Linked DNA regions of Homo sapiens. The protein of the gene in region 1 purifies or fractionates together with the protein of each later gene. This does not show direct contact. Each region holds a gene or a part of one and is shown on either strand. Other genes may lie near its edges.

What was found. The genes of interacting proteins can lie anywhere in the genome.
Region 2: the proteins of SYN3 (region 1) and GART purify together in Homo sapiens (co-immunoprecipitation; one large-scale study listed by IntAct). This does not show direct contact.

What each region holds. Positions count from the first base shown.
Region 1 is NC_000022.11:33,048,382-33,051,881, forward strand, and holds part of SYN3 (synapsin-3), read right to left. Parts: intron 1-3,500. UniProt on the Homo sapiens protein: May be involved in the regulation of neurotransmitter release and synaptogenesis.
Region 2 is NC_000021.9:33,514,618-33,518,117, reverse strand, and holds part of GART (trifunctional purine biosynthetic protein adenosine-3), read left to right. Parts: intron 1-509; coding exon 510-761; intron 762-976; coding exon 977-1,129; intron 1,130-3,500. UniProt on the Homo sapiens protein: Trifunctional enzyme that catalyzes three distinct reactions as part of the 'de novo' inosine monophosphate biosynthetic pathway.

The DNA.
Region 1 (3,500 bases):
GAAAATCATGTGTAGCTAAAAATACCCTCAAAAATATTTTTGAAATGTGATCCCCAGTATTGAAGGTGGGGCCTGCTGGGAGGTGTTTTGGTGATGGGGGTGGATCCCTCATGAATGGCTTGGTGTCCTCCCCTTGGTGATGAGTGAGTTCTTGCCCTATTAGTTCACACAAGAGTTGGTTGTTAATAGGAGCCTGGCACGTACTCCTCTCTCTGTTGCTCTCTCTCTCACCATGTGATATGCCTGTTACCCCTTCGCCTTCTGCCATGAGTTAAAGCTTCCTGAGGCCTCACCAGAAGCTGAGCAGATGCTGGTGCCATGCTTGTACAGCCTGCAGAACCTTGAGCCAAATAAACCTCTTTTCTTTATAAATTACCCAGTCTCAGGTATTCCTTAATGGCAATGCAAAATGGACTGAAACAACATGTATGAAGGTATTAGAGGCTGTTTATCCAAACTGAATGACGGAAACCTTGCAAGCAAATACATACTCCTAAGAATTCCCTCTCCTTCACCCCATGCCCTAGAGATTTGACAGTTACCTTAAAAACAGAGCAGCATGAAGATGCAGACAACTTCTTTTTTGACCTTCTTTTTCTACTTCTTTTGCTGTAGGCCAGAGTTTTGCACACTGGATAGCACAGGGAATTACTATTCAGGGTTTCATACACAAAAACCATGTATAATGCAACTTTCTGACCATTAAAATATATTTAGGGTATTTTTGGCTACACATGATTTTCACACCATACAATGGGTTTAGAGCCTAAAAAATGAGTAAGACACAGTGTTGCTGTACCCTTAGCTTCCTCTAATTTACTCCCGCTTGATAGATAATCAAGAAATGTTAGCTCTAGAAAGGAAGTTACAGATTGCCAAGTTCCACTCCTTGCCAGGGCTTCAATGATGACAGGGCCTTGGAAGGTGGGCTCCCCCTGCTGGACAACTCCACTACCAGCACGTTCTTCCTCTATCTGCTATCGGCTTTTCTCCAAATTCCACTGCTGCAGCTAGCTTTGCCCTCCAGCCCTGCAGAATAATTATAACTCCTCTTTCCTATGATAATAATTTGAATTTCTGAAGCCTGTTATTTGGGTGAGACTTTCTTAATGCTATAGTGATCATGAAAAGGGTCAAGTATCTGCACTGTGCTTTTTAATAACCACGGGATGGTTTTTATTCTGGGTGCTCGTCCAAGCTATTGATACCCGCCTCCCCATTAGGCAGCTCCACCAATTAATTAAATTCAATATTTTGGGAGCTACGCTCTGGAAGCATGCCTCTTAGTCGGGAAGACAAAGAACAAAAACCACACGGCATGTGGCAACTACTCTTACAGTGGCACAGATTCGGTGCCAGCCGCACGCAGGAGGAAAGGGTCAGGGTCTCAGCCCATCCATTGGGAAGGACTGCTAACCTGTGAGCTAGAAGACCCCAGGAAACACAGCCTGAGCCTGCTCAAGGAAAGTGACCAGGTCTCATACTCAGCTTGCCTGTTGCCCTCTGTGTCTCAGACACCAGCCACAAAGCCAAGCAGAGGAGGTTTTCCATAAGCCTACTCCAATCTTTTGGCACTGGAAAGGGGCCTGGAGGTGAGAATAACTAAATGCAACTCACTCACCCCATGTGTCTCAAATGAATGAGTGTTGTTGTTTTATTTTTTCTTAAAAAAAAAAGTTATAAAAATACAACTCCAAACACCTAAGACAGGGAGTCTTTGTGTCCATTTCTTCCCATCTGTCAACTCATCAAGTGACATGAAACAAATCCCCTAACTTCTGTGGACCTCCATTTTCTCAGCTACAAATTGAGGGGCTTGGCCAGGCACAGTGGCTCACACCTGTAACCCCAGCAGTTTGGGAGGCTGAGGCAGGTGGATCACTTGAGGTCAGGAGTTCAAGACCAGCCTGGCCAACATATTGAAACCCCATCTCTACTAAAAATACAAAAAATTAGCCGGGCGTGGTGGTGCACGTCAGTAGTCCCAGCTACTCGGGAGGCTGAGACATGAGAATCTCTGAGCCTGGGAGGTGGAGGTTGCAGTGAGCTGAGATCATGCCACCGCACTCCAGCCTGGGTGACAGAGCGAGACTGTTTCAAAAAAAAAAAAAAAAAAAACAAAACAAAGCAAAACAAATTGAGGAGCTTGATCCAAAGAACTGTAAGATCCCTTTCAGAACCAGGGTCCTCCAATCTTCTGTGGTCCCAGACAGTGAGTGGATAAGCTACAGTGACCTGGCTGAGCTAGTTTATCTCAAAACCAGCACATGACTTCTAGTACAGAAACAGCATGCAAGGAAACAAAGGCAGACAAAAGATTCCTGCTCCAGCCCCACCATTATCCTGCCATGGATCCCTCCCTCAGTACATCTGCCTGCACAGCTCTAAATACCAGCCCTGCCACTGAGCAAGTGGATCATCTTGGACAAGTCACTCAACCTCCTTTAGCCTTGATTTGCACATCTGCAGAGTGGGGTTAATTTTACCCACTACCAGCGCAGCTCGGATGATGAAATAAATTAAAACCCGTATAAAGCACCCAGTACCTAGAGGACATATGCCGTGTATCCCTTTATTCAAACATTCTTTACCCACTGAGCCCACTTCATCAACATATTCAAATTCCAAAGGCTTATAGTAATCTGAAGCCCAGGTGGCCAGACCTAGAAGGGCTGCAAAAATCAGCAAGTCCAACTCCTTTCTACCTCTGCGATTTACAAGGGAGAGAACTGAGGCTCAGAAACGTTCGGTGACTTGCTCAAGGACCTACATCAGCAAGCCTGGCCTAGAACACAGGGTGGCAAACACCAAGGACCACACAAGACACAAAGATAACCCTTTGTAGGCCTCATTCTCCAAAATTGAGAACCCATCACTTATAACCCAATTCTGAAAAATTAAAAATAGAAAAATTTTCTATTTCTGTATATCTTTGGAGGACCGCAAGAGATAGCCAGGATCGCAGTGTGTCTATGAAAGGCAAGGATTTCTTGAATTACTTATGAAATGAAGGTCAGTGGTTCTTGCTAGCAGTTTTCCTCAGCTGCTCTGCTCCCCTCTCCCTTCCCCACATCTACTCATTTCAGTTTACATCTTGAGGCACACATGCCTACATTGGGACCCTTTCTGGACAAGGTGAGAAGTTTTAGGTAGAGGCAATAATCCATTTCCCATTAAACACAAACAAAAAAAAAATCACAGTTACACTATCCATAATACAAAAAGAATTCCTCTCCTCACCCCTAAGAGCCCCAGCCTGGGACACCTAGAAAAGTGCCCAAATACATTAAGGCACACAAACAACCAAGGGTCAGGGACCCAAAGGTCCCCCCAAATGACATGATCAAAATCCATGAGACCATTCAAGAGTCTCTGGAGAAACCTCAGCCCAGATTCTACAAGGGCCACTGGACTGAGCCGGAGTGCTCTAGAGGGAGCTCAGACAATATAAGGAGGAACCAGATTAGAAGTGGTTTCAGAGATACAGGGATAACCTGACG
Region 2 (3,500 bases), on another chromosome or scaffold:
GTTTAGAACACAGTTTCTTATTTGGAGTCTGCCTATACCTTATATCTTGACATGATATAATTGTAAGTAAAATGCTATACTTTTTAAGCTAGGGTATTTGGAATTGGGCAGTCCCAGTTAAGTCACTTCTTTAAGGCTGTATCATCACCTGAAAAATGGACTGATTATAAAGATCAAATACATATGAAAGCAGTTTTGAAACTAAACAGCTATAGAAATGATGTTATATTCAACTGAGCATTCATTCTGTGCAAGCAGTGGTGTTTGGCGGCTGCATATATACTTGTAGAGGTGCTACCTAATCTCACCCTTTGTGGAAACAAGTGCTATTTCTCCTGAAATCATGCTTGGTGGAAAGTTCTGTTAGACAGCTGGTAGAGTACATTTTCTTAAATATTTGCAGGACATAGCCATGTGTTAGTTGTTCATGTTAAGAGTAGCCTGTGCCACTGTTTCCTAGACAGATTTATAAATACTCTGATTTCTTTGTTCTTGTCTTATCCCACCAGGAGGTGAAACAGCAGAAATGCCTGACATGTATCCCCCTGGAGAGTATGACCTAGCTGGGTTTGCCGTTGGTGCCATGGAGCGAGATCAGAAACTCCCTCACCTGGAAAGAATCACTGAGGGTGATGTTGTTGTTGGAATAGCTTCATCTGGTCTTCATAGCAATGGATTTAGCCTTGTGAGGAAAATCGTGGCAAAATCTTCCCTCCAGTACTCCTCTCCAGCACCTGATGGTTGTGGTGACCAGACTTTAGGTAAACTCCCTCATGTTTAAACTGTCCTGCTTGGAAATGCCTGAGCAAGCATTTAGTGGTTTTAGTCTCTGATTACTTAGAGCTAAAAGGGAATGAATTACCTTGGTTTGCTACTTGGTCATTATTGTAGAGCTGGTGTCATTCTCCAGGTTGATTTTTATGTTTTGGTTTTCTATTCATAGGCTAAGTTTTTGTCTTCTCTCTTCAACATGCAGGGGACTTACTTCTCACGCCTACCAGAATCTACAGCCATTCACTGTTACCTGTCCTACGTTCAGGACATGTCAAAGCCTTTGCCCATATTACTGGTGGAGGATTACTAGAGAACATCCCCAGAGTCCTCCCTGAGAAACTTGGGGTAGATTTAGGTAAGATCACTAAAACGAACTTCTGTTCAGAAAATTGCTGAGGAAAAAAATGCATTGTGCGAGAAAACTATGGGTAGTTAATGTACACATGATTACACATGGAAAATTCTTAATCATTGGGGGTTTTGGGAGGGAAAAACTCGACCCTTTTCTATCTCTTTTTGCTTCATTATCTGTATTTATAAGACATAAAATATTGTCATGTAATTGGCTTACATAAAGTTGAAGTACTCGATAAGTAGGTCCTCCAAGGGGATTGGTAACTTCAAGCTCTATTAAGATGGAGCCCTACACACCAGGAAAGGAAATGTTAGCTATTAAGTAATCCATATTCGAGATAAAAGGACCTAAACCAAGGCATAGAGAAGGGAGGCACATTGGAGAATCATTTTATGCTTAGAAGTAAAAAGAAGTCTCAGGTTTCTAGTTAAGCAGGTGAGTAGGCGGTAACATCATTAACATAGGAAGAAGAGTAAGTTTGGAATAGAAGGTTTTTAAATCTTCAGTGTGTTTATTCCAAGGTGACTGTGAGCAGAAGTTGAAGTCATGCTGAAGATAAATTGGGTGATTATTTGCACGTAGTAATAGTTATAGCCAAGAGAATGAGGGAGACCAAAAGGTTGTTTCTCAAAGTAGAGTGACTGAAAAGAACAGTCCAAAGTAGTGGGTAAACCATGTAAAAGTATTATCATCAAACCAACATGGGATTTTTTTCTTTTCTTTTTTTTTTTTTTTTTTTTTTAGACAGAGTCTCACTCTGTAGCCCAGGCTGGAGTATAGTGGCGCAATCTCAGCTCACTGCAAACTCTGCCTCCTGGGTTCAAGCGATTATCCTGCCTCAGCCTCCCAAGTAGCTAGGATTACAGGCACCCGCCACCATGCCCGGCTAATTTTTGTATTTTTAGTAGAGACAGGGTTTCACCTTGTTGGCCAGGCTGGTTTCGAATTCCTGACCTCAAGTGATCCGCCCGCCTCAGCCTCCCAAAGTACTGGGATTACAGGCATGAGCCACCGCGCCCGGCCCCAAGGTAGGATTTTAACGTGACACTGGTCCGCAGTGTCAGGTACAGCACAAAGATCTAGAATAAGCACTAGAAAAAGACCAGTGTATTTTAGAGTTAGGTCAAAAGTCAGTTTGCTGGACATAGATACCACCCACTAGATTGTTGTGGCAGAGTTGTGGAGACAGTGGGTAGAGATTTCTGTTTGAAGAAACATACTGGTAAAAGGGAAGTGGAATAATTTTATGCATGCAGCAAAAGTGAGGGACAGAGTCCTCCCTCCCTGTGTTCTTTTTTGTTTTTTGTTTTTCGTTTTTTTTTTTTTTTTTTTTTTTGAGTTGGAGTCTTGCTCTGTCGCCAGGCTGGAGTCGCCAGACTGGAGTGCAGTGGCGCAATCGCAGCTCACTGCAACCTCCGCCTCCTGGATTCAACTGATTCTCCTGCCTCAGCCTCCCAAGTAGCTGGGACTACAGGTGCCCGCCACCATGCCCGGCTAATTTTTGTATTTTTAGTAGACACGGGGTTTCACCGTGTTGGCCAGGATGGTCTCAATCTCTTGACCTCATGATCCACCCGCCTTGGCCTCCCAAAGTGCTGGGATTACAGGCATGAGCCACTGTGCCCAGCCCCTCCCTTCCTTGTTTTTGTAAAATAAAGTCAGAGAAACTTTTCCAGCTATAGTCAACTAATACACATTGATTTGAAGGAGTAGAAACTGAGGGAGTTTACATAAAATAACTTCTCTGTGAAGTATTAGTGAGATGATCAGGCCTGGGGTGGGAGCTTGAAGAGAGGAGTGGATAAAGCAGTCAAGGTCAAACAGGAGTGAGACAGTGAGCAGGACTGAAGGCACAGGTGAAGGTGAAGCTGCTCATGTAGTTTTTCTCCCAGAGCAAAAGCATGTATATAGCTTTGAAGCAAGAACAGAAAAAAAATAGATTAGTTAGGTTGATCCAGCTGAACTAAGCAGGTATTGGGGTCATTCATTGGGGAGAAGCAGTCAGAGTGATAGAGGTGAGTAGATATGGTGAGCTAACCCAAGAGTCAGAGCGTATGTGAAGCTCGGAGAGAACTGAAGAGTCAGAGGTAGGTTGTGTGGAAGTGAGGAAATCGGCAAGGGAAGCTGGGAGAGTGGTCAGATGGGATTTCAGCCTAGTCAGGGAAGCAAAACAGACAGGCCAGGCTAGGCTGAGTGGGAGTCTCTTCCAGGTCCATGGACTGAGCATATTAAGGAGTTGAAGGATTCATAGGAGGGTGAAACTAGTGGTTCAAGACATTCCTTGGGTAGAAATGCTTTCTGGTGAGCATATATAAGAACCTTAATAAGTAGTTCATTCATCATCCTTTTCAAATAGTTAAAAAACAGTGGC